Linked DNA regions of Homo sapiens: regions 1 and 2 are each linked to region 3. The links come from fine-mapping of genetic effects on gene expression. A gene starts in region 3. Each other region holds a variant in brackets. All regions are shown on one strand. Distances are between the middles of the regions. Region 1 holds the start of MIR4673 (microRNA 4673). Region 2 overlaps INPP5E (inositol polyphosphate-5-phosphatase E). Region 3 holds the start of SEC16A (SEC16 homolog A, endoplasmic reticulum export factor).

The links. PIP is the estimated chance that this variant, and not a neighbour inherited with it, causes the effect.
Region 1: its variant is fine-mapped to the expression of SEC16A in whole blood (TOPMed, PIP above 0.99).
Region 2: its variant is fine-mapped to the expression of SEC16A in fibroblasts (GTEx, PIP 0.92).

What each region holds. Positions count from the first base shown.
Region 1 is chr9:136,511,491-136,519,636 of GRCh38, forward strand. It overlaps NOTCH1 (notch receptor 1), which reads right to left. Exons shown (of 34, transcript NM_017617.5): 5 at 7,953-8,075; 6 at 7,101-7,334; 7 at 6,647-6,802; 8 at 6,262-6,447; 9 at 5,782-5,895; 10 at 4,491-4,604; 11 at 3,993-4,226; 12 at 3,800-3,910; 13 at 3,020-3,212; 14 at 1,902-2,047; 15 at 1,531-1,644. It overlaps MIR4673 (microRNA 4673), which reads right to left and starts at 8,136; the gene lies at 8,078-8,136. All of the region lies in intron 1 of LOC124902310 (a long non-coding RNA gene), which reads left to right. The variant G/A (reference allele first, on the strand shown) is at 4,525.
Region 2 is chr9:136,426,311-136,434,481 of GRCh38, forward strand. It overlaps INPP5E (inositol polyphosphate-5-phosphatase E), which reads right to left. Exons shown (of 10, transcript NM_019892.6): 3 at 7,727-7,824; 4 at 6,845-6,969; 5 at 6,646-6,765; 6 at 6,169-6,276; 7 at 5,514-5,675; 8 at 4,692-4,807; 9 at 3,967-4,103; 10 at 2,309-3,497. The coding sequence ends at 3,365. Among named protein-coding and RNA genes, the nearest start is that of INPP5E, 9.4 kb to the right of the region's middle. The variant C/T (reference allele first, on the strand shown) is at 3,918.
Region 3 is chr9:136,478,505-136,486,675 of GRCh38, forward strand. It overlaps SEC16A (SEC16 homolog A, endoplasmic reticulum export factor), which reads right to left and starts at 4,536. Exons shown (of 32, transcript NM_014866.2): 1 at 4,434-4,536; 2 at 205-326. It overlaps C9orf163 (chromosome 9 putative open reading frame 163), which reads left to right and starts at 4,991. Exons shown (of 1, transcript NR_172629.1): 1 at 4,991-7,563. RefSeq lists enhancers at 3,684-4,429, 5,175-5,919 and silencers at 4,159-4,478, 4,709-4,818, 4,889-5,068, 5,219-5,648.

The sequences.
Region 1 (8,146 bases), 33 kb after region 3:
ATGTCACGCTCAGAAGCCACCCCTCATTCCCGGTTGGCAGCGGGGCACAGCCTAGGCCTCACCCCACCAGGCGTGCCCAGGAACAAGGACTGCACCAGGAGAGGCGGCCTCAGTCGGGTGGGCTCCACGACACTGCAGGGACCTGGGCCCACCCCGGACGCAAGCCCCCTCATCTCTGGGTGACGAGGAAAGGCCCTGGCCTGAGACCGAGGCCTGAAACTAATCCTGGGGCTCCGTGTCACAGGCAGCAAACGCCCATCACGGGAGGCCAACAAACAAGGGCTGCGATGGAGGGGACAGGCCCAGGCCCCCAGCACATCCTGCGTGTCGGGGCACGGGGCACGGCCTGGAGACCTCCAGGGCCACGCAGGGTGTCTGGCAAAGGCTATGTGGGAACCACGTGCACAGCCGAGGGCCTTTTTCTGCACAAGCCCATGGCCGAGCTTCCTGTTTATAGCCGTGGGGACTGCGTTATCTTCCCTGTCCCCCATTATCTCCCTGGCCTGCTGGGGCGACTTTCCAGGGCCTCTCTTCCTATTGGTTTCCACGGTGACCCGGGCAGGCAGGAACTGCGCCAGAGTTTCCGACAATTGTGCGAAAGGAAGCAGGAAGCGGGCAGATAGGAAGCGGGTCAGCACCGCCGCTCCTCCTGCCGGCCCGATCGACGTGTCTGAAAGGGACAGGGGCGCCCAGCCGTGGAGGGAGGGTCCTCACTGACTGACACAGGAGAGAAAACCCAGGTCCTTAACTTCGGTCAAAGAAAACAGCGTTCTGGCCACAGGCTGCTGGATGTCATGGGAACCGCAGGCGTGGGACCTCCAGCCCGGCTGCCTGGCCCAGGCAGGCCCTCCCTGACCAGGCCCCGTGGCAGCACCCTCTGCCCGCTCCTGGGGAGCGCCAGGACCCCGGTGCTTGTGGACTCTTCTTTGTCTTTTCTAGAGGAGATCATTTCCTGTGATCCCCTTGGCTGGGTTCATAGCAGGGGCTGGACAGTTGGGGGAACATCCCCCTCCCCGCTCAGCCCAAACAGAGGGCTCCTTGTTCCGCTCACACAAAGAGAGCCCGCCATCAAAGGAATCCCTCAGGTCCGGCTGGCGGGGGTGGGGAAGCCCGGCCCCCAGAGACCCCAGCAGGGTGGGCGCCGGGAGCACGGAGCCCAGTGACCCAGGCCCGGCCCTGCTAAGGATTCACCTGCATCTTACCTGTGTCTTGCGGCAGGCTTGCCAGGTAAAACACATGCTTGCATGAAAATTTTCTCCCAGGCATCCTGTATCTTTGCTAATCTGCCAACCCCACCCCCGGGAGAAGGCCCACATACTGCAGGGGCCTAAGGCACTCAGTGAGGCGCAGAACCTTCTGGAAGGCCCCGCCCCAAGAAAGCCACCACTTTACCCTCCAGTCACGGCTTCCCAGGCCGCCCCCACCCCTGGCCCCACCCTCTCCAGCACAGGCTCCGCCCTCTCCAGCACAGGTCCCGCCCCTCCCACATAGGCCCCGCCCCCTCCAGCACAGGCCCCACCCACCCCTCACCTGTGTAGGGCAGCAGGCAGTTGCACTTGTACCCGGCAACGTCGTCAATACACGTGCCCTGGTTCAGACATGGGTTGGACGCACACTCGTTGATGTTGGTCTGGCAGTTGGGACCTGGAGGGAAGGGGACAGCACTCGGCATGTCCAGCACTCCCAGGCACCTTGGCAGGGCCCCACAACAGCAGCCCTGGGCCTGCTCCCCACCCCAGGCCCCTCCTCATCTCCAAGAGCCAGAGGCCTGGAGCTAAGGCTTTGCCACGGGAGGGAGACACCATGCATGGTGCTGGCTGGACCTGGGTCCCGATCCTGTGTCTCCAGCTCCCCAGACTCGAGGGCGGCCCTCTGCACTGAGAAACGCGCAGCCCACTCACCGCTGAAGCCCTCCCGGCAGGTGCACACGTAGCCACTGGTCATGTCTTTGCAGGTGCCGCCGTTGACACAAGGGTTGGATTCACACTCATTGTTGTTGATGTCACAGTTGGTCCCACTCCACCCAGGGTCACAGTCGCACTTGTACCTGCAAGGGGGACCACACTGCAGGTCGAGGGAGGCCCGAGCAGCACGGCCGGGGCCTGGGCACTCCCGGGTCTGCAATGCCCTATGGGCTGGCGGAGGTGCCCATCCACTCAGACTCGCAGAGTCCTTTAGTGGGGGCAGGCTGGGCGCTGTGGCTCACACCTGTAATCCCAGCACTTTGGGAGGCGGGGGTGGCTGAGTCACTTGAGGCCAGGAGTTCAAGATCAGCCTGGCCAACATGGCGAAACTCCCCCACCCCATATATACTAAAAATACAAAAATTAGCCAGGTGTGGTGGCACATGCCTGTAATCTCAGCTACTCGGGAGGCTGAGGCAGGGGAATCACTTGAACCTGAGGGGTGGAGGTTGCAGTGAGCTGAGATCATGCCATTGCACTCCAGCCTGGACAACAGAGCAAGGCTCTGTCTCAAAATAAAGAAAAAAGTGGGGGCCGCAGCGCTTCCCATACCCAAGACTGCGGCAGGGGTTTGGTTCATTAGCGAGGGGACCATGCCAAGTGCAGGGCAGTAGGGTGCTGCGAAAAGCCCCCCACCACTTGCCCGCTGTGTGGCCCCGAACAAAGCACGTGCCTTCTCTGCGCCAAATGAGGGCAATGGGGTCCCTGCTGATTTAAATGGTCCCATCCAGGCAGAGTGCTGCCAGGCACATCATGGGCATCAGAAACACTTGCGGCTGTTACCATGGAAACGTGTTCCAGGGTCACTGTGGGCCTGTGTCCTGAGCACACCATGCAGCCCACAAGGACACGCAGCACACAGCTGCTGGGTGTGGACTGTAGTCTGACTGAGGACCCAGAGGCATGTGCGTCCCCGAGGGGAGCTCCCTGCCACCCAGCCCCGTCCGAGGCCCGTTTCTGGCCCATCTCAAGCTCTGTGCAGGTGCCACCCTCCTGGCAGCAGAGCTCCCAGGGTTTAGGACTGATGTGTCCCCATGATCGGCCCCGCCGCATACCCGTTGAGGCTGTCCCGGCAGGCCCCGTGGACGCAGGGGTTGCTGTTGCACTCATTGACCTCAGACAGGCAGGTGGGGTCGTGGTAGCCCTCGGGGCAGCGGCAGGTGAAGCCATTGATGCCGTCCTCGCAGGTGCCCCCGTTGTGGCAGGGGTTGCCCGCACACTCATCGATGTTGATGTTACACATGCTCCCTAAGGGCAGGGCGGGTCAGACTCCGAGGCCCAGCGCCCAGGGGGTCCCACCCACGTCAACCTCGATTTCCCTGTCTGTTGAGCCGGGGCGATCACCCTTCTGGCCACATCCTTCCAGGTGTCAGAAACCATCTTGGATCACAATGTGCCATGTGCCAGCCTCCCCGGGCACCAGTGCCCACTCAAGTCATCCTCCCAGGGGCCCCAGGGGCAGGGGCTACTGCAGCCCTGACTGATGAGAATCTGAGGCCCAGAGAGGCAGAGGGACCTGCTCAAAGGTGCTGGTGAGCCACAGAGGCAGAAGGTACTTAAGCCTGGCCTCAGGGCTGGCTGCTCCCTCTTGGCCTGCTGGGCCACTCTGCCAACACGGCCTGGGACAGCTCTGACCGGAGACAAGAGGGGTCGGGGGGACCCATCGTGCTGCCAGTTATAGCCCTGGTCCCGCTGCAATCTCTGCTGCAGACCACGGTCTGCCCAGGTGGGCAGCACCAAAGCCCTCACCCAACCCCTCAGCAGCCCCAGGGCAGAGTGGCTGACCTTGACCTCTGAGCACAGTGCAGTCAGCCCCCACGTGCAGGGCCGCTCACCTGTGTAGCCCGGCTCACAGGCACACTCGTAGCCATCGATCTTGTCCAGACAGGTGCCCGAGTCGCAGGGGCTGCTGGCACAGTCATCCAGGTTGATCTCGCAGTTGGGTCCTGAAGGGGTGGCACGTGTCGGTCAGTCCTCAGGCCCGCCCTGCCCACTGGCCCCCCGCCGGCCACCCGCCTGGCCGGCCACCTGTGGTCCCCTTCAGGCAGAAGCAGAGGTAGGCGTTGTCGCGGTCCTGGCAGGTGCCCCCGTGGCGGCAGGGCTGGCTGGAGCACTCGTTGATGTTGGTCTCGCAGTGGTGGCCCGTGTAGCCTGGGCGGCAGAGGCAGGTGAAGGTGGCGACGCCGTCCTTGCAGGAGCCGTAGTGGCAGGGGTCGGGGTCGCACTCATCGATGTCCACCTCGCAGTGCGTCCCCGTGTACCCTGGACCGTGGGAGGGGCGGGCACAGGAAGACTTAGGACTGGCGGCCCCCGGGACACCCATGACCAGACCTGGGGTCACCTGTGCCAACCTGAGGAGGGCTCCGAGCGTGGCATTCCCACCTACTCAGGATTGGGGCTGAGCTGTGCTCTCGGCCTCTGGACCAGGTGGCCCAGACCAAGGTGTCCATGACCTTGTCAGTTTCACTGCCCTGAGTGCCCTGTCCCGTCCCCAGTCCCTCCCCGCTGGTGGGCGCCAGCCCGCACCTTCCGTGCACACACAGGTGTAAGTGTTGGGTCC[G/A]TCCAGGCACTTGGCACCATTCTTGCAGGGGGTGCTGGCACACTCGTCCACATCGTACTGGCACAGATGCCCAGTGAAGCCTGGGGCCGGGGAGGGGAGGGGAGGGAGTCATGTGCAACAGCACTATGGCCCTTCAGGGACCCCTGGCCAGACCCCAGCAGTGAGCGCCTGGCTGGGCTCCCCAGGGCACACTCAGCCTGAGCTCAGCCAGCTCCAGCTCTCCCTGCCTCCCGCTGCCCGCTCCCCGGATCAAAGCCCCTCCCCCAGCACCACACGCCCTCGCTCCCACAGAAGGGGCCTTTTTCCCAAACCGACTGGGTTGCTATGGCTACAGTGGAGCCGGGCTGAGAATGGGGCTCCCCTCGCTCCAGTGTCTGGGACGGGTAATCTATGTCTTGGGAGCCTAGGCTTGGGCTGGCAACGCCTCCCTGGGCTCTGCGCCCCGGCCCCCAGCTCTGGGACAGATGGAAACACCTTTCACCCAGGCCCCTGAGAGTTCCTCCAAGTCCGCCCCGGGCAGCCATCATCTCCATTGCAGGCCAACCTGCCCCACGTGGTTCTCTGCATACCCTTGTCGCTGGCGTGCCGTTGGGCAGGGGACATGGCAGGACAGGGCAGGCTGGCCTCCCTCCCAGCATCGAGCCCTCAGAAAGCCAGGCTGGAGCCTCCTCCCTGTCTGGGCACTGCAGCTCCTGGTATACCCTTCTCTCCAGGCAGAAGGGGCTGCACCCAGATCAAGGAGGATCTCCTGGCCCTGGGCTCCACCGCGACCCCTGGGCAAGCTCCCACTCCCCACTGGGCCCTGCCCTTCCTTCGGGGAAGTCTGAAAACACTCCCATCCACTCATGAGGCAAAACCCTCGCTCTCCTGGGAATCTGAACACAACCAATGGCCAGGCCCCCCTCAGAAGGCCGGGGTGCAGACGGCCCAGGGGCAGGGGACACAACCTACGGCCAGGCACCCCTCAGGAGGCCGGGGTGCAGACGGCCCAGGGGCAGGGGACACAATCCACGGCCAGGCCCCCCTCAGGAGGCCGGGGTGCAGACGGCCCAGGAGCAGGGGACACAACCCACGGCCCTCACCCCTCAGGAGGCCGGGGTGCGGACGGCCCGAGGGCAGGGGGTGGGGGCGGCCCTCACCCCTCAGGAGGCCGGGGTGCAGATGGCCCGGGGGCAGGGGACACAACCCACGCCCAGGCACCCCTCAGGAGGCCAGGGTGCAGACGACCCGGGGGCAGGGGGCGGGGGTGGCCCTCACCCGTGGGGCACTCGCACTGGAACTCATTGATCTTGTCCAGGCAGCGGCCATTGTGCAGGCAGGGGCTGCTGGCACACTCGTCTGTGTTGACCTCGCAGTGCACACCCTCGTAGCCTGTGGGGTGGGGCAACAGTGAGGGGGGCACGCGCGGCCCCAGTGCCCCACTGGGCACAGCTGTGGACTTGGGACAGAAACGAACCCTGCCTCCAGCCCAGTGTCCCAGCCACCACGGGCCCCCTGCGCACCCGCTCCCCTGCAGCCCGTGGCCCCTGGCCCGGCACCCTCATCTGCCTAGCACTGCCCCCGTGCTCTGCTGGCCCTGTGGCCTGGCCTCAGTTTCCCCATGCCCTGTGCAGGCTGTGGGCCCAGAAGGCATGGAGGCTGGGGAAAGCGGAAGCAACCCACAGATGTTCCCGGGGCTGCCCCTCCAAGGCTGCCCAGCCTCGACTCGGTTTCCCGCCCTGGCCCCGGCCGACGCACCGGGCATGCAGATGCACTGGAACTCCCCAATCTGGTCCAGGCAGGTGGCGTCGTTCTGGCACGGGTTCGAGACGCACTCGTTGACGTCGATCTCGCATCGGGGGCCCGTGTAGCCCTGCAGACACTGGCACTCGAAGGAGCCCAGCGTGTTGATGCACTTGCCCGCATGCTCGCAGGGGTTGGCACCTGGCGAGGGCACACGGGTGAGAGGCTGCTCCAGGCACCCTGGCCCCTGCAACACCTCACTGCACACCACCCCCATCGGACTGGCAGGGTCCCATCCCCCATCTAACTGGGCACCCCCTGAAGCCAGAATCGACTTCTCATCGGTTCTGGGGCCAGGCTGCCACCCCCACCTGGCCGCACCCCCTGTGCTGGCACCTACCCAGCGAGCACTCATCCACGTCCTGGCTGCAGGCCGGGCCCGTGTACCCCGAGGGGCAGGTGCAGATGGCCTTGCCATTGACAGGGTTGGTGTCGCAGTTGGAGCCCTCGTTACAGGGGTTGCTGATGCATGCGTCGTTGAGGTGGCACAGCAGACCTGGGCAGGCAGCGGCGGTCAGTGGGCACGGCCCCTGGGCCAGGCATGGCACACCACCCACGGCTGGGGTCCAACCCCACTGACACCCCAGGAGGAGCTGCCCGCCGTGACCCCGTCGGGCATCCCGTGACACTTGGGACGTTCCGGGGGACTCACAGCGACCACCGGCCTCCCTGACCAGAAAGGCCCTTTCAGGTTATCCTGGGTGCAGGAGGGCCACAGTCCCTGGGTGAGGTCACACAGCTCAGGCCTGGCCCATGTGAGCCCCCTGCGCCCACCTGGGCCTCAAGGCACTCACCTGTGCGGCCATGGGGACACTCGCAGTAGAAGGAGGCCACACGGTCATGGCAGGTGGCGCCGTGGAAGCAGGCGGCGCTGGCACAGTCATCAATGTTCTCGCTGCAGTCCTCACCAGTCCAGCCGTTGACACACACGCAGTTGTAGCCACCGTGGGTGTTGTGGCAGGTCCCGCCGTTCTGGCAGGCATTTGGCATCAGCTGGCACTCGTCCACATCCTCGGTACAGTACTGACCTGCAGGGAACAGGAGCTGTCGGCCCCGGGCAGCTGCCACTCCCTGAGCTCCCTGTCCCCTAAGACGCAGGGTGGCAATGCCGCCCCCTCCAGGAAGCCTTCCTGGGCTGACTCCTCCACCCACCGCCAGCCTAAATCACTCCTTCCTCTGCAGGCCCAGCACCATGGAGTCTTGCCTCCTCTTTGTGCTCTGTGGACACTGCTGCGTCGGGGTGCACCTTTGCCCGTCACCCCACCAGAGGGTAATTCCCGAACACAGGGCCTGTCTGTTCATCCAGGCATCCCTGTGACTGGCCCAGGAAGCGTGGCCTGAGTGGGGTGCTGAAGGCCCTCAATGCCAGGACACCCCACTGGGCACAGGGGCTGCCTGGAGCCAGGTTGCAAACGGCCCACACAGACCAACCAGGGCCCTGTCTGTGCTGACCCCCGAGGTGAGGGGCACCAGACCCTGGCCACGGGAAGTGGGGCCCCCATCATGTTGTCCTTCTCGGCCAACCCTAGTCTGCCTGGCCTGGGACAGGGTCTCGGCTGCTCCCCGCTATGCCTGTGAGTGCAGTTTAGTAAGTGGGTAGCAGCCCCGCCCCGGCTACCCCGCCCTGCGGCGACCCGTATACGCGCCTGTCCACTCTGGCGGGCAGCGGCAGTTGTAGGTGTTCACGCCGTCCACACAGGCACCCCCGTTCTTGCAGTTGTTTCCTGGACAATCGTCGATATTTTCCTCACAGTTCTGGCCGGTGAAGCCTGCCGCAAGAGGGGCCGGGTCAGCCTCTTCCCTGAGGTCCAGTCCGGCTCCTGCCTGGACCCCCGACACA
Region 2 (8,171 bases), 52 kb before region 3:
TTAGTAGAGACGGGGTTTCACCATTTTGATCAGGCTGGTGGTGAACTCCTGACCAGCCGCCTAGGCCTCAGGTGATCCACCCACCTGGGCCTCCCAAAGTGCTGGGATTACAGGCGTGAGCCACCGCACCTGGCCACGTTTTTTTTTTCTTTTGCCAAATTTAGCACTGGAGGATAGGATACCAAAGTTGACACTAATATTAGGTTCTAAGAACCCACTACTATCGAGCCAGCTTTTTTTTTTTTTTTTTTGAGATGAGGTCTGGCTCTGTCGCCCAGGCTAGCCCTGGAGTACAGTGATGCAAGCACAGCTCACGGTAGCCTTAACCACTGGGGCTCAGCGGATCCTCCCACCTCAGCCTCCTGAATAGCTGGGACTATAGGCGTGCTCATTGCTGTTTTAGAGGTGTGGTCTCACTAGGTTGCCCAGGCTGGTCTCGAACTCCTGGCTTCAAGCAGTCCTCCTGCCTCAGCTTCCCAAAGTGCTGGGATTATAGATGTGAGCCACTGTGCCTGGCCGTATTTAACAATTCTTTTATTTTCCAGAGATTGGCCAACATCATTTGCATTCATTTAAACTCCTTTCTGAGTGAAATTCCATTAATCTAAGATCTAGCGGTGAGTGCCAAGGGAATCACCTGACTTTCGATCCATGATCTTACTAGACACGTCATATCCTGCCCTCCCCACCGCCGCCGCCGGAAGACTTGGAGCCTCTTACTGTCAAGCCACGTGAACACACTCCAGGGTCGGACCAGAATCTCTTTAACAATTGTTTGGGTCGGAGAAGAGGCCTAGGAAGAAGCCATAAAAGCGGACTCATTTGAAGCCCCATTACCATAAACATCTTGGTACAGATTTTCAATGAATTAATTTGAAACTTAGGGCACATTTGTTCAGGCAAAGTCTTTTTTTTTTTGGAGACGAGTCTCACTCTTGCCCAGGCTGGAGTGCAATTGTGCAATCTTGGCTCTCTACAACCTCCACCTCCCGGGTTCAAGCAATTCTCCTACCTCAGCCTCCTGAGTGGCTGGGACTACAGGCGCACACCACCACACCCGGCTAATTGTTTGTGTTTTAGTACAGACAGGGTTTCACTGTGTTATCCAGGCTGGTCTCGAACTCCTGAGCTCAGGCAATCTGCCCTCCTCAGCCTCTCAAAGTGCTAGAATTACACCCAGCCCAAAATGTTACACACGCCACACCCAGCCCAAAATGTTATACATACAGGACATCAGACTAGTTGACTGAAATTAGATGAGATTGGCTGTGCCCTCTCATTAATGGAATTTCTATCGACGACTTTTTTTTTTTTTTTTTTTTTAAGGAGTCTCGCTCTGTCGCCCAGGCTGGGATGCAGTGGCACGATCTTGGATCTTGGCTCACTACAACCTCCGCCTCCCAGGTTCAAGCAATTCTCCTGCCTCAGCCTCCCAAGTAGCTGGGACAACAGACACCCGGCTAATTTTTGTATTTTTAGTAGAGATGGGGGGGGGGGGGCGTGGTCTCACCATTTGGCCAGGCTGGTCTTGAACTCCTGACCTTGTGATCTGCCCACCTGGGCCTCCGAAAGTGCTGGGATTACAAGCATGAGCCACCACGCCTGGCCCAAGAGACTCATTTTTATCAAGAGACTGGGTGTTTGTTTCCCTACTTTTTAAGATGCTGCTAATAAAAGTTTTCTATTATTCACTGAATTGTTGATAACCAGCGTGGTTCATCAGGTCTCAAGTATTTGTGTTTTCCTCAAAAGACTCTTTTCCATCTAACGCTGATCTCTTGGGCAGTGAACTAGGAATGCAGGATTTTATGTATTTATTTATTTTGAGATGGAGTCTTGCTCTGCTGCCCAGGCTGGAGTGCAGTGGCGCAATCTCGGCTCACTGCAACCTTTGCCTCCTGGGTTCAAGTGATTCTCCTGCCTCAGCCTCCCCAGTAGCTGGGATTACAGGCGCCCGCCACCACACCCGGCTAATTTTTGTAATTTTAGTAGAGATGCAGGGGTGGTCGCACCATGTTGGCCAGGCTGGTCTCGAACTCCTGACCTTGTGATTTGCCCACCACTCAGATGATCCATCTGCCTCAGCCTCCCAAAGTGCTGGGATTATAGGAGTGAGCCACCGCACCCAGCCGAATGTAGGATTTTAAAGATAGCAGAGATGAACCGGACAAGATCATAGTCAGCTGTTGAGGGTTGAGACCAAACTTTTTGCCTGTGGATTTTACAGCCTTTCAAACAAGGACATTGTGAGAACGGGATATGCATGTATATTGTTGCTTCCAGGTTTCAGTCTTTGGCCAGAAAGAGATTTTAAGACTCAATATATGCATTTATTTAAAAATATAAATATGGAAAAATAATTTAAAAGACTAGATTGAATGTCCCTAGATTTTCACACATTCAAAGACTACATTTTTTCAAGAGATGGAATGGGACACAAAGCAAGAATGAACGGTTCTATACTCTCGAAGAAAGAAACCCGGGACATGGTGGGGATCCCTGGCCTAGGTGTTCAAGGTGGTGGCATCCTGAACTTCCAGCAGTTCCCTAGCCCGGTTCCACTAATGTCATTCCGCGGCTGGAGTTAAAGAAGCAAACGGTCTACGTCACCAAGACCATGAGACGGTTTCAAAAATGGTCTACGTCACCAAGACCATGAGATGGTTTCACACAATAGGCTTGGCCTATGAGAGGAGGGGAAGCAGCTTCTTACTCAGCTGGGGAGGCCCTTATACTGGGGTGCAGGCCTCCTCGCCCCATGGCAGGCGACTTGCAGCCAAGTGGAGGGGAACCGTGCCACGTCCTGGAGGCTGTGTGGCTTCCTCAGCTGGGCTCTGGGGCCCACTCAGAGGTCTGAGGCCCCAGGGGTCACCTAGCCCAGATCCAGCCTTGCTCTGGATACCCGTGTGACATGGGGTGGTGTGTGTTTGAGGGGCTGCCAGGAGGACACAGATGGACGCCTGCTTCGGGTGTGGAGGGAGAGGCTGGTGCAGAGCACGGGGGTGTTGGGGGGCTCTGTGACTGCCCCCAGGGCACAGGAGCTGCTCAGGAACGGATTCTGACGTCTGCCCCCGAGAGTGGCTGGGGTCCGTGGTGCTGCTGGGCGGGTCCAAACCCTGCCACCCATGCTGTATGGACCTGCCATGGAGACGGGGGTCCAAGCCCTGCCCACCCACACCGTGTGGACCTGCCACAGAGGACAGGCTCGCTCAGGGTTGGCTTCCTTCCTGGGACGCTGGCACAGAGGCACGGTCGCCACAGTCCCTCGGATCCCCGAAAGGCGGCAAACTCTTTGTCCTTCCCAGTGGGTTTTGATCAATACAATCACCCCACGTTGCAGCTGTGAGTCCTCGTTCAGCAAACTTCAAGAAACGGAGCAGATGGTGCTGGAGTTCTGACTCTGTAGTGCTTGCTGCCTCTGAATCTCCTTCGAAATCCGTCTTTTAATTCCTAGTAAGTACAGTTCTCTATCAAATTTGCCAGCTGCCAACGGAATGCTGTGGAGGAGGAGGGGGCGTTAGGAGGGCACCCAGGGCCAGGAGGAGGGGGCGTTAGGAGGGGGCCGGCCCCGGAGGAGGGGGCATTTAAGAGGACACCCAGGGCCAGGATGAGGGGCTGTTAGGTGGGCACTGGCCCAGATTGGCCCTGCCTCTAAGCACACGGAGGCCTGTTCCTGGGACAGAGCCGCAGGAAGGACAGGGCGGATGCCTGAGTGCTTAAGGCCTTCGTCCCTCCAGCTGGCCACACCCAGCCCCCCAGCTGGGCCTCTCTTCACTTTCCAGAGCCTCTCCCCTTCCTGCCTTCTCCTGCTCCAGGATGAGTCCAACCGATCCCGGGGAACACAGCCCTGAAGGTCCCAGAACAAAGCCCCAAGTGGAACCCCACGATGACAGGGACCCTCTTAGCTCATGGGACGA[C/T]GGCACGACCCCCAGGCCCAAGGGGGAAGGTGAGCGGGAGAACACTGACTTGTCTCGCCCCGGCCTCACTTTCACCCGGAAGAGGCCATACACAGGGCGGTGGTCGGACGTCTTGATCCCGGGGCAGGAAGAGTAGCTCACAGGACAGATGTCACCCTTGTGGCGGCTTCTGTACAAGACGCGGTCCTTTGGGAAGATTGCAGAGGCAGGAGGTCCAGTTACTTGTGAGGAGCCGTGGGGCGTGGCCCGCTCACCTCCCTGCTGTTCTCAAGCGCCCCCCACAAGGAAGCCTTCTGGGACCCCTGACACTCATGCCCATTTTGTTGCCTGGCGTCTGTGGCCAGCTGGGCCAGGGCCTGTCCCTCGCCGCTGGAGAGACCCTGTGGACAGCGGCTGCTCCTACCCTGCCCTGCCTCAGTGGCTTCTTGAGGCTTCCAGCAGATATCCAGATATCGGGACATGCCCAGAGATGCAGCCATGGGCCTGGCAGGAGGGTGAGCGAGGGTGCAACGGGCAGAGGGCAGAGGCTCTGCAGGCCGGAGGCGAGGGCATGGCTGGTGCCCTGTGTGCCAGCCGGCTCACCCAGCCTTGAAAACACCCATGGAGAGGGCGCCGTTCTCCACCAAAGGGGACTTGCCACAAGGCCAAGGTGCAGAGCTGAGTTTCAAGTCCAGGCCGTCCAGGCTCAGACCCCTGACGCCAGGCATCGGTTCCCGGCTGTGGGAGATGCCTGCCCTGGAAGCACTCTGCACCGCAGCGGTGGGCAGGCCTCACCGTGTATGAGGGCGTCCTCTGCTTGGAGGTGCTGTCGTACGTGTCCTTCCCGATGTCAAACTTGTATGATGGGAGGAAGTGGATGTCCGGCTCCTGGAAGCCCTTGAAGATGGACCCTGCCACAGGATGGGCACTCGGACTGGCTCAGACCAGCTTGTGCCAGCCGCCGCACCCCAGGCCCTCACCTCTCCTCATCTCCCACCACGCCCACCCTCCCCCCACCCGCCGCAGGCCCTCACCTTTCCTCATCTCCCGCCACGCCCGCCCCCCCAGGCCCTCACCTCTCCTCATCTCCCTCCACGCCCGCCCCCCAGGCCCTCACCTCTCCTCATCTCCCTCCACGCCCGCCCCCCAGGCCCTCACCTCTCCTCATCTCCCTCCACGCCCGCCCCCCCAGGCCCTCACCTCTCCTCATCTCCCTCCACGCCCGCCCCCCCAGGCCCTCACCTCTCCTCATCTCCCTCCACGCCCGCCCCCCAGGCCCTCACCTTTCCTCATCTCCCTCCACGCCCGCCCCCCCAGGCCCTCACCTTTCCTCATCTCCCGCCACGCCCGCCCCCCCAGGCCCTCACCTTTCCTCATCTCCCTCCACGCCCGCCCCCCCAGGCCCTCACCTCTCCTCATCTCCCTCCACGCCCGCCCCCCCAGGCCCTCACCTCTCCTCATCTCCCTCCACGCCCGCCCCCCAGGCCCTCACCTTTCCTCATCTCCCTCCACGCCCGCCCCCCAGGCCCTCACCTCTCCTCATCTCCCTCCACGCCCGCCCCCCCAGGCCCTCACCTCTCCTCATCTCCCTCCATGCCCGCCCCCCCAGGCCCTCACCTTTCCGCATCTCCCGGATGAGCTGGTCGTGCTGCAGCAGCGCCGGCACGTCCACCACCAGGCCCTGGCACAGGAGGGCGTCCACGACTGTGCGCCCGCCACTCAGGCGGAAGTTGAAGTCTCCAAACCAGAACACCTCATCGAAGCGGGTGGTGACGTCCGCTGCGGCACAGTGGGCCATGTGTGGGCACAGGCAGAGGGACGGCAGGTCCTTCCCCTTCCCCAGAACATGGCCTGGGAGTGGCTCTCAGGGGAAGTGGGTCTTGGGCGCCAGCCGGTGGGGCCGGGCCCTCAGGGGTGGGATTCGCACTGGGACAGTTCCAGAAGGCACCTGGAGCAGCCTCAGGAGCAGACGATGCCCATGGCAGGCGATGGCCACGTCCCTGCTCCTCTCCACACAGCCAGGGGAGGCGGCGGGGCGGGCAGTGGCGAGGACCAGGACCCAGGCTAGTGGGCCACGCCGAGTGGACAGGATCCGCCCACCCCACTAACCGTGCTAAAGAACCGCGAGGGGCCATGCGCTGGGGGCACTGGACGTTTCGGCCCTCGCTTCCCAAAGCTCAGGACGCTGCCTCTTCAGAACTGCCCTAAAAACGACGGGCGCCCGTGTGCGAACCACGGCGGCACCACCCACACGCAGCGTGGACGCCCTCACCTGCGCTGGAGCGATAGGGGTTGGTGTCGGGCACATTTCTGGGCAGGACCAGGGCTTGTACAGTCCTGGTGTAGTCCAGCAGCCGCTCCGCCACCTTCCCGTCACCTGCTGTGGGAACAGAAATGGGGTAGGGACCACAGGGTTCCGGATGCTCGAGTCTCCCTAAAGCGCCGCACCTCTGGACTGTGCCCTGACTGCGCACCCCCGGCAGACGCAACCCCACCGGGCATCCGCTGCCGGGCCCAGCCAGTGACATTTCCGCCTCGGAGGACAGAGCACGGGCCCAGCACGGCACGCCCTCGGTGCCGGGGTCTGCCGGGGGTCCTTGGCGTGCATCTTAGCAAGCGTGGTGCCCACCCCACGGCCCTGGGTGGAAGATGAAGCCAGCGGTCAGGACCCCTGCCTTGGACAGGGTCCCGGTCAGGAGAGGAAGCTGTTCTCACACAGCACCTGCGGTGCGGGCACCAAGCAACTTACAGGTGAAGTGGGACGTGATGAAGAGGAAGGAAGTGCCAAAAAAGGTGAAGCTGATGCCCAAGGCCCCCTTGGTCTTGATCTGAGACACGATGCGTGTGGTCACCGTGGAGCACTCCACCTCTGTGGGAGGGGCAGCCCTCAGCTCACCTGTGGGACGCTGCCACCTTCCAGCCGCGCCCACCCCTCCAGCCGCGCCCACCTGAGCAGAACCAGATGAGGTCCCTGCGGATGAAGAGCGACATGTAGAGCACGCCGTGGGCCGCCGAGGACAGCAGCACATAGTGCGGGCCCAGCGTCTCCTGCAGACGAGTCTCCCACTCCCGCCTGCAGAGGAGGAAGCACGGCCGGCTGGGGGACATGGCCTCCCAGCTCCGCCACCCCCAGACCTGCTGCCCAGAGCCCCTCGAGGAGCTACCAGGGAAACCCCACGACCTGGCCTTGGTGTCTTGCGCGGAGAAGCAATTGCCAGAAGGCCTGGTGGGCCAGAGTTGGGACCTGCCGGGGGCCACAGGCCCCAGTTCCACTTGAGTGGCTCCCCTGGACCCCCGCCGAGACCCCAGTGAGCAGAGCTCCTCCCGCCTGAGGGACTCATGGGCCAGGGAGGTGGGGCCCACCTCAACTCCTTCCCCCAGAGCACCTGTGTGGGCGGCAGCCACCTGCTGTTCCCGCCATGACATGGGGGCCCGGGAGGCCTTGGGGCCCGGCCCTGCTCCGGCTGCCCTTCTACTCTCGCACGCCAACAGTTTGTTACCAAAATCAAATCTCATTGATTTTAAACTCTCCGAGTTGCCACTGGAAAAAAATCTGACCCATGCCTCCCACCCAGGCGTGGAGGCTGCCCGTGCCCGGCCGCCACCCGGGTCTCAGCGCCCAGCAGCTTCAGAGACGGCAGCCCCCGGGCAGGCACTGCAGATCTGTGCCCGGCCACGAACCGGGTATCAGCGCCCAGCAGCTTCACAGATGGCAGCCCCCGGGCAGGCACTGCAGACCCGTGCCCAGCCATGACCACAGGTCTCAGCACCCAGCTGCTTCAGAGACGGCAGCCCCTGGGCAGGCACTGCAGGGCCTGCAGCCGCCCTACCTGTCAGAACAGCCCTCCTGGACCCCGATGACATACAGGTCCTGGGCATAGTCGGCCTCGGCTGGGAGCAGGAACTCGTCCAGGCTGGGCGGGAGCTCCTGGAAGGAGGGAGCATGTGGTGGGCCGGCTCCTCCCGAAACCTGCAGGCGCCTGTGGGTGAATCCCACTGCGGTGCCTTGAGTACCAGCGACTCCTCCGAATGAGGGGAAACTGAGGCCAGGGCCAAAAAGGGAGCTGCCCGGTCTCCGAGGCAGCCTCTGACACACCAAACACGCCTCACGTTGGCCCTCGGCCTGTTTCCCTCTCCAAGCACGAGTCTGTCCAACGACCACCCCTGTATGACCCTCCCGTCACCATGACCCCAGCCCGTGCTGCCCACCCTGTCCCTGAGCCACCCCTACGCGTGCCCCGCTGGCCGCCCTCCCGCTCACCTTGAGCAGGTGAT
Region 3 (8,171 bases):
TCTTTGATGAAAGAGCATTATGAAGTATAGTTATAAAAGCTGCAAAATAGGCTGGGTGCAGTGGCTCATGCCTGTAATCCCAGCACTTTGGGAGGTCAAGGTGGAAGGACTGCCAGAGCCCAGGAGGTCGAGACCAGCCTGGGCAACATAGCAAGACCTTGTCTCTACAAAAGAAGAAAGTTAGCCAGACATGGTGGCACACACCTGTAGTCCCAGGGACTCAGGGGGTTAAGGAAGGAAGATCACTTGTGTCCATGAGTTCGAGGCTGCAGTGAGCTATGATTATACCACCGCGGTCCAGCCTGGGCAACAGAGCAAGACGGTCTCTATTTTAAAAAAATAAATAAATAAAAAGTGACACAATCATTTTTTTAAAAAGCACTGCAAAATAAATATATTCATCTAAATGCCTTTTATCACACCTCTTCATAGGTCTCCGTTTTTGTACTGTGACTGGCTTAAGGTCTGAAAGGACCACCAGCAAGATGTTACCTTTGAACTGGAGCCGTAACTGTGCCTGGAATGGAAACTCCCAGGAAACTTAAAGCAGCTTTACAAGGCACAGACTGGATTCCAACACTTTCAACAACAGGCAGAATTGCCAAGAAACCTCTTACAGAAAAGAAAGGGGCAAAAACCTCCATCAGTTTTTAAATAAAACATAGTAGATACAAACTTGAATAGTTAACCTGGCCTCTTAAGGCAAAAATTCAAGGACTATATCTTTAGGAAAGTTCTTTTCTTTCTATCAGTCTTTCTTCTTGTCAGCACCACCCTCATGAACAAACAGATAAGTTTAGCCAATCAAAGGAAAAATTAAACCAAAGGGGAGGACTCTGTAGTTTAATCCACACATTTTTTTTTTTGAGACGGAGTCTTGCTCTGTCGCCCAGACTGGGGTGCAGTGGTGCGATCTCGGCTCACTGCAAGCTCCGCCTCCCAGGTTCATGCCATTCTCCTGCCTCAGCCTCCTGAGCAGCTGGGACTACAGGCACCTGCCACCATGCCAGGCTAATTTTTTGTCTTTTCAGTAGAGATGGGGTTTCACCATGTTAGCCAGGATGGTCTTGATCTCCTGACCTCATAATCCACCCGCCTCGGCCTCCCAAAGTGCTGGGATTACAGGCGTGAGCCACCGTGCCTGGCCAATCCACACATCTTTGCAGATGTATATTATTTTGGTCTCTTGGAAATCTTTCTGATATTCAGATAAAAGAAGAAAACACTGGCCAGGTGCAGTGGCTCACACCTGTAAGCCGAGCACTTTGGGAGGTAGGAGGACCACTCGAGTTCAGCAGTTTGAGACCAGCCTGGGCAACACACAGCGATACCCCATCACCAAAAAAAAAATGCCGGTCGTGGTGGTGCGTGCCTGTAGTCCCAACTACTCGGGAGGCTGAGGTGGGAAGATCGCTTGAGCCAGGGAGGTTGAGGCTGCAGTGAGCCTTGTTCAAGCCACAACACTCCAGCCTGGGCGACAGAGTGAAACTGTCTCAAAAAAAAAAAGAAGAAAACACTGATCAATGTATTTTAAGTCAAGCTATTTACTAGGAACAGCAGCAAAGGCTTCATGGAGGTTTTAGGCTCTCATCTGAAAACAAAGAATGTTCACAGCTCTATTTTATATGGACTGAAAGGAGAACAGGCAGAGCATCTTCCTCTGATCTGTGCACTGGCATTATCTTCCACTGGGTCCTACCAGCTGCACAGCCACAGCAGACACAGCGACACCTGCAACCACGGCCAGAACACGCAAACTTCCAAGCACCTCCTGAAACTCTGCTGCCAGAACTGGGGTCCTACCTCATCTCTCAAGACATGGCCTTCCCCGGGAAGATCCTTATCATCCTCAAAAGCTTTTGTTTGCTTTAAACACAGAGCACGGGCCTAGAGGTTTATTCCTTGGCTGCTGCTGTGAGAGCAAAACTGAGTGTCCAGGTGAGTGGCTCGAGGCAGCCACTCCTCTTTCTGCAATGTATTTTTGTCTATAAAATGCGAGAATCGATGTGATTATTTTTTCCTAAAAAACCCGGGTTTAATCTTATGAGATTCTACTCACAGTGGATTCTGGGATGTCCTAATCCCACCTGCTGTTTAACAGGGGTGGCCGGGCACGGTGGCTCACACCTGTAATCCCAGCACTTTGGGAGGCCGAGGCGGGCAGATCAAGAGGTCAGAAGATCGAGACCATCCTGGCTAACACGGTGAAACCCCGTCTCTACTAAAATACAAAAAATTAGCCGGGCGTGGTGGCGGGCGCCTGTAATCCCAGCTACTCGGGAGGCTGAGGCAGGAGAATGGCGTAAACCTGGGAGGCGGAGCTTGCAGTGAGCTGAGATCGCGCCACTGCACTCCCGCCTGGGCAGAGCGAGACTCCGTCTCAAAAAAAAAAAAATTATTCCGCAGCTCTCCTAGACTAAGAGCTTTTTTATGGCAAACATTATCACTTACAAGGAGCATTCCAACCTTCATGCTCCCTAATTGAGAGCTTTTTAGCAACATGCCACTTTCATTTGGAACAATCTTGTGACTTGAACTGATTTTTTTGATCTTTTTCTCTACTCACCAGGAGAAAAACAATGCAACTGCCTATCACCTATGTCACCACTACAGGGAATTTTATTCTTTTTTTTTTTTTTTTTTTTTTTGAGACGGAGTCTTGCTCTTTCACCCAGGCTGGAGTGCAGTGGCGCGATCTCGGCTCACTGCAGGCTCCGCCCCCCGGGGTTCACGCCATTCTCCTGCCTCAGCCTCCAGCGTAGCTGGGACTACAGGCGCCCGCCACCTCGCCCGGCTAATTTTTTTTTGTATTTTCAGTAGAGACGGGGTTTCACCGTGTTAGCCAGGATGGTCTCGATCTCCTGACCTCGTGATCCGCCCGCCTCAGCCTCCCAGAGTGCTGGGATTACAGGCATGAGCCACCGCGCCCGGCCCAGGGAATTTTATTCTGTAACCTCAAGTCATCTAATTCTTTTATTGTTCCAAAGAGGCCAGCTGATCTTGAAAATGCAGTATTCATAAACCTAGCTAGTCAGTTAAACTGCCTTGTAACCATGTGGATACCTAAGCAAAACTCTTTTTAGTACAGTTCTGGCTACAGAACTGAGGCATTTAAAATGCATGCACACCCCTCTCCTCTTGCTGCCACTGGCTTCATATTTTAAGTGAGGAAAACAATAGTGTGCCAGGAAGCCCCTGAGTTTACCTACTGCCTACAGTCTCCCTCACGGTGGCTGCTAGTGACGCCCTGTCAGACTGTGGGATGCTTGACACAAAGACATGATCAACTCCAACTCTTCTAAGTTAGAATCGCAACCACATACAGTTAGATGTTGAAGAGGAAGCCAGCGACAGAGGAGGCCAGCAGCCTAACACTGATGAAAATGACGAAGACCCTGGTATTCATGAAAGATGCTTACAGAAGAAGAAATCACATTAACATTTACCCACTACCATGACCTCTTGCTGGATTTGGCAAAAAAAGACAAAGAAAAAGAAAAAAAAAGTGCCCACTGCCTCAAAGAAAACTTTAAGTACAATTTTGAGACTCACTGTAGTAACCACTATTAACAGTAAACGAGGAACAAGGAACAAGAAAGACACGCTATTTTGCCTCTTGTCTACAAGATACCAGCACCTGAAACTTAAGAAAGGGGATGAGGAAAAAACGCAGGGAGGCTGCATTGTGCTGAAACTTGCAAAAGTATCACTTCTAGGAAGAACCGTCTGCGGTTCCGTTTGCTTCGTATTGCCACATGGGGGATGGGAAATACCTCTTTGGTTAACATCGGCATCACACATGTAAAACAAAATCTTAATATACAATCCACACCCAACTTACAAGCCATTTAAAAGTGTTCTTAAGCGGCAAAAACTGACTTTAAATGGCTCTGATGTTTCTGAAGGCTCTACTGTAACACTTCCATCACAAAGGGGCGAGCCGGATCACACACACTCCTCTAACCCTCGGCCTCTGTTGCAACATCCTGATCGCCCAATCAAGAAATTACAAACAAACAACTCTGCTCTTTGGTTCAAATGTAAATGTGTCTCTTCACCAGCATCGCTAAGGAAGCCTTCTAGCCGGTGAGGACAAGACACGCTCATTTGAAAAGTTAAGAGTCTTACGAGGGGTGCCTGGGGGTCCAGCCTCCCGCCCCGGGAACCGGCGTCACCGCAGCCCAGCCGGGTCCACGTCAGTCCCTCGAGTCCCACGGCGGCCCGCGCCGCGTCCGGCCTTCCGCTCTGGCCCGGGGGCCCGGACGTCTGTCCCCTCGACCGGCCCCGGCGGGACCCGAGATGCACCGCCCGCTCGGGGCTGGGCCCAGCCGCCTCCTCTCCTCCGCGCCCCGACCTCCACGGCCTGGCTCCGCCGGCCGGCCTCCGCCTTCCTCCTCCCGCGCTCGCCCCCTCACCCGCGCTCGCCCCCTCACCCGCGCGGCTGAGACCGATCCCTCAGGAGCCGCGGGCGAAAGCCCACCCGACGCTGGCGACGAGCACAGACACCTCAGCCGCCGCAGCCATCTTGGCACATCCGGCTCGGGTCTCCGCGGCCGCCGCGCCGCCGACGTGTCCGGCTTACGACATCAGCGCGCGCCCCGCCCCTGGCCCCGCCCCTCGGCTCGTCGGCCCAGACGCGTTCTCTTTCAGCCCTTCACAGCCCATCCCTCGGCCCCGCCCCTCGCCGGCGTCCGTCCTCCCCGCCTCATCCCTCTGTCCCGCCCCCTCTGCCCCCGCCCCTCGCCGGCGTCCGTTCTTCCCCGCCTCATTCTTTCGTCCCGCCCCCCGCCCGTCTTCCACGCCTTATCCTGTAGTTCCCGCTCCCCTTGGCCCCGCCCCTCTTCCGTCGTTCCTCGCCTCATTCTTTCGTCCCGCCCCCTTAGCCCCGCCCGTCGTCCGTCTTTCTCCGCCTCATCCTGTCGTTCCCGCCCCTTTGGCCCCGCCCCTCGGCCGTCCTTCCCCGCCCGTGGCCCCGCCCCCCTCCGGCGTCCGTCTGCCGCCTCACCGCTTGGCCCCGCCCCTCGCCACCTGCCCGGCCAGGCGCGCCGGGGCCGTCCCAGTACGTCGCCCTGTTTACGCTGGCTCTTTCTCCCAGTCTTTTTTCGTTTTAAGATGTGAGAAGAGATGGGATTCTTCAATCAAGGCCACAAGCGGGAAATCAGTCTGCAGGACCGATGCCAGCAGGCTCACGCACCGAGAACGGCTACTCCGCCCAGCTGAGAAGCGCGGGGCCCTGACGCGGGCGCGCTCCTCGCATTCTTCCGTTGGGCTGGGAGGCTGGAGGGCAGGCGGCGGCGGCCGCGCATGCGCCGGGAGCGGCCGGAGCTGCGGGACGCGGAGGGCCGACTGCGCCTGCGCGCTGGTTGCCTGGTTACGGCGTGGCCGCGGGCACCGAGCGGCGCCGGAAGTTGGTCGATGGCTGCCGCCAGTCCCTGGCCAGCGTCCTGGGGTTTCCCCGACGCATCCTCTACTGTCCCTTCGCTCTGCACAGAGGCCCGGGCAGGGAGGGGCGGCCCGGCCACCGCGCGGAGCCGGGTGTCCGCCGACTCGCAAGGGGGACGCGCGGGCTCCTCGTCCCCAAGCTCCGCCCTGCGCCTTTGCTGCGCCGGGCCCTCCCAGGCCCACCCTGGCCCCAGCCCTGCTGTCCTCCCGGGGAGGTGCGGCCTACTCGGTTCGTTCCCCCGGCCGCCAGCCCCACAGGGGCGCTGGGGTCCCAGCCTTGGCTGAGTGCACGTCGGTGGCGAGTGGGCCCGGGCGCTCGGGCGGCCAGAGCGACCCAGCGGAGGGGTGAGGCGGGTAGGCGCTCCTGTGCCTGCCACGGCCAGGCCAGGCAGCATCCACGCCCTCCCGCGGAAGATCGCAGGGAACAGGTGGGCACTATCCTCTGTGCCCTCATTTTTCGGAGGAGCCGAGGGAGGCTGAGCGGTTGAGGAAGCGGCCAGCCATGCCGGGCCCACTCACCTGCACACCTGCCTGGCAAGGGCAGGGAAGAGCCGCGGCCTTCCTCTGCTGCTCCTTCCAGAGGGCAGGCGCCGTGGTGGGGGTGCCCGCCCGATGGCATCGCGGGAGGCTGAGCTCCCAGCAGCGGCTGAGGTCCTCCCTGGGTGGGAGCCACCCTTGTCCCCAGCTGGGCCGGCGGCTGGTGAGGGAGGGGGTGATATCCGTGCCACGCCAGCAGGGCCGCAGGCGGTGCAGGGAGAGCTTCAGTCCGGCTGACGTGGCACCAGGGCCAATCTGCTCAGCTAACATTTGCCTTTCAGGAGTCAGATTCCTGACCTGTTTGAACAGAGTTAGGGAGCACGTGGTAGGGCCCAGCCCCAGCCCCGCTGCCCCCATCTGCTTCTTCCCAGTGGTCGAGGCGCTCTGCACCCTCCGCGGAAGGAGGTGTCATTGTTTGCCCTTTCCAAAGAGGGGGATGCAGAGGTGGATGCTGCCTCTCAGGCGTGGGGCTCGCCTTTTGCCGCTCGCGAGTTCAAAGAACCCAAGAGCCAGGAGCCCAGGGCTCGACCCTCTAGGGTCCTCCGAAACCCTGTGGTCCCACCGGGGTGGGCACTAAGCTATGGGAGAGACCATAGCTGCAGAAACCAACCCTGCCCTAGGCATAAAATGCAAGGTCTCTGGACCTCAGGGCAGGGATGTTAGACAGCGGCTTCTGTTGGCTCCTAGGGGTGTGAATCACCACATCACCTGCAGGGGGCGCGGCTGTCTTTCTTCCCCCTCTTCTCCCTAATCCTGAGTGCACGGAGACAGCTCTCAGCAGTTTGTAGCCTGATGTGGAGTGGAGGGTTCCTGCACCCTACACCCGAGCCCATCCAGCCTCTGGGCCATAGACCCTTCCGTTGAAGGCCCAGCCTGCCCCTGAGACGCTGTGTGCCCTTTTTCAACTTCCTTAGTCTCTGAGCATCAGGTCTTCATCTCTAAGATAGAGCAAGATGAGCACCTAAACGTTTCAGGGCTGAAATGGGGTTGCCAGGACAACAAGCATGGCAGGGGCGAATGGGGACATCAGGTGACTGACTGCGAGCCAGCAGAGGCCTCCACCCAGTGCTGGGAGGTGTCCCGCCGGTGGTGGCCATCACTATTCCTGGTGGGGCTTTGCTGCTTTTGCCTGCAGCATCCGCTGGTTTCTCCATTCTCCAAGTCTCTGCCCCTGCTCACACCTGGAGGCTGGACACAAGTGTCACCACTTCCCTGAACCCCCCTAGGTGGGCTGGAATCAGCATCTGGTGCAAAGCTCTGTGACCACTGCTGTACCACATTATGCAGAGCACACAGGACAGGCTGGTGCACCTCCAGGCTGTGCCAGGAAACCCGCTGCCTTTGCGTCACCACAGCCTTGGTCACAGCGTGACCTTGGTGCCTCCGACGGGTCAGCTCCTCCCATTAGCCATGCTGTCCAGCACGGGGGCCGCTGGTGCTTGCTGTGAGACTGAGCTGGGCTCTGAGTGTAAACTACATGGTAGGTTGTGAAGGATGCAAATATCGAATCAATCATTTTTTATTGCATATTAAAATGACAATATCTTGGATGTATCAGATTAAACAAAATACTATTTAATTTTATTTCACCTGTTTCTTTTGTTTTTGACATAGCTGCTGGGAAATGTAAAACTCCACATGGGGCTGGTGTTACATTTCCACTGGACAGTGTTGGTCTAGAAGGCAGGCACTCAGCACCCCTAGCCTGTGCTTATAGCCTCCTATGATAGGGGCCTGAAATGCCAGAGGCTGATGGGTGGACCTGGCTCTTTGCTGACAACTGGCGGGCCAGTGGCGGTCCTCCAGGGAGCCCCCAGCAGAGCAGCAGTCTCAGTGAACGCAGGACGGCCCCTCACTGTGAGCTTCTGCTCCTCTTTCCTACCTGGTGTAAAATAGCAGTGGCGAGTATGTCTGGGTGCTTGTGGAGGTTTACTGGGCAGGCCTGCTCCCTGCCGGACACTGTCCTCAGCCCCTGACACAGACCCTTAGTCCTGGACGCTGAAGCTGGAGGCTTGGCCTGGAGAGAGGAAGGGGCAGTCTCTGTGAGACGGTTAGCTGGGTGGTCCAGGCAAAAAAACATATGAAGGCCTCCAAGGTGGAGAGCACTGACACGGAGCTCTTCCTGGAGGAGGAGGGAATAGGGCTGGGAAGCTGGAATCAGGGGAGAGGAAGCAGATCTGGAGGCAGGGTCC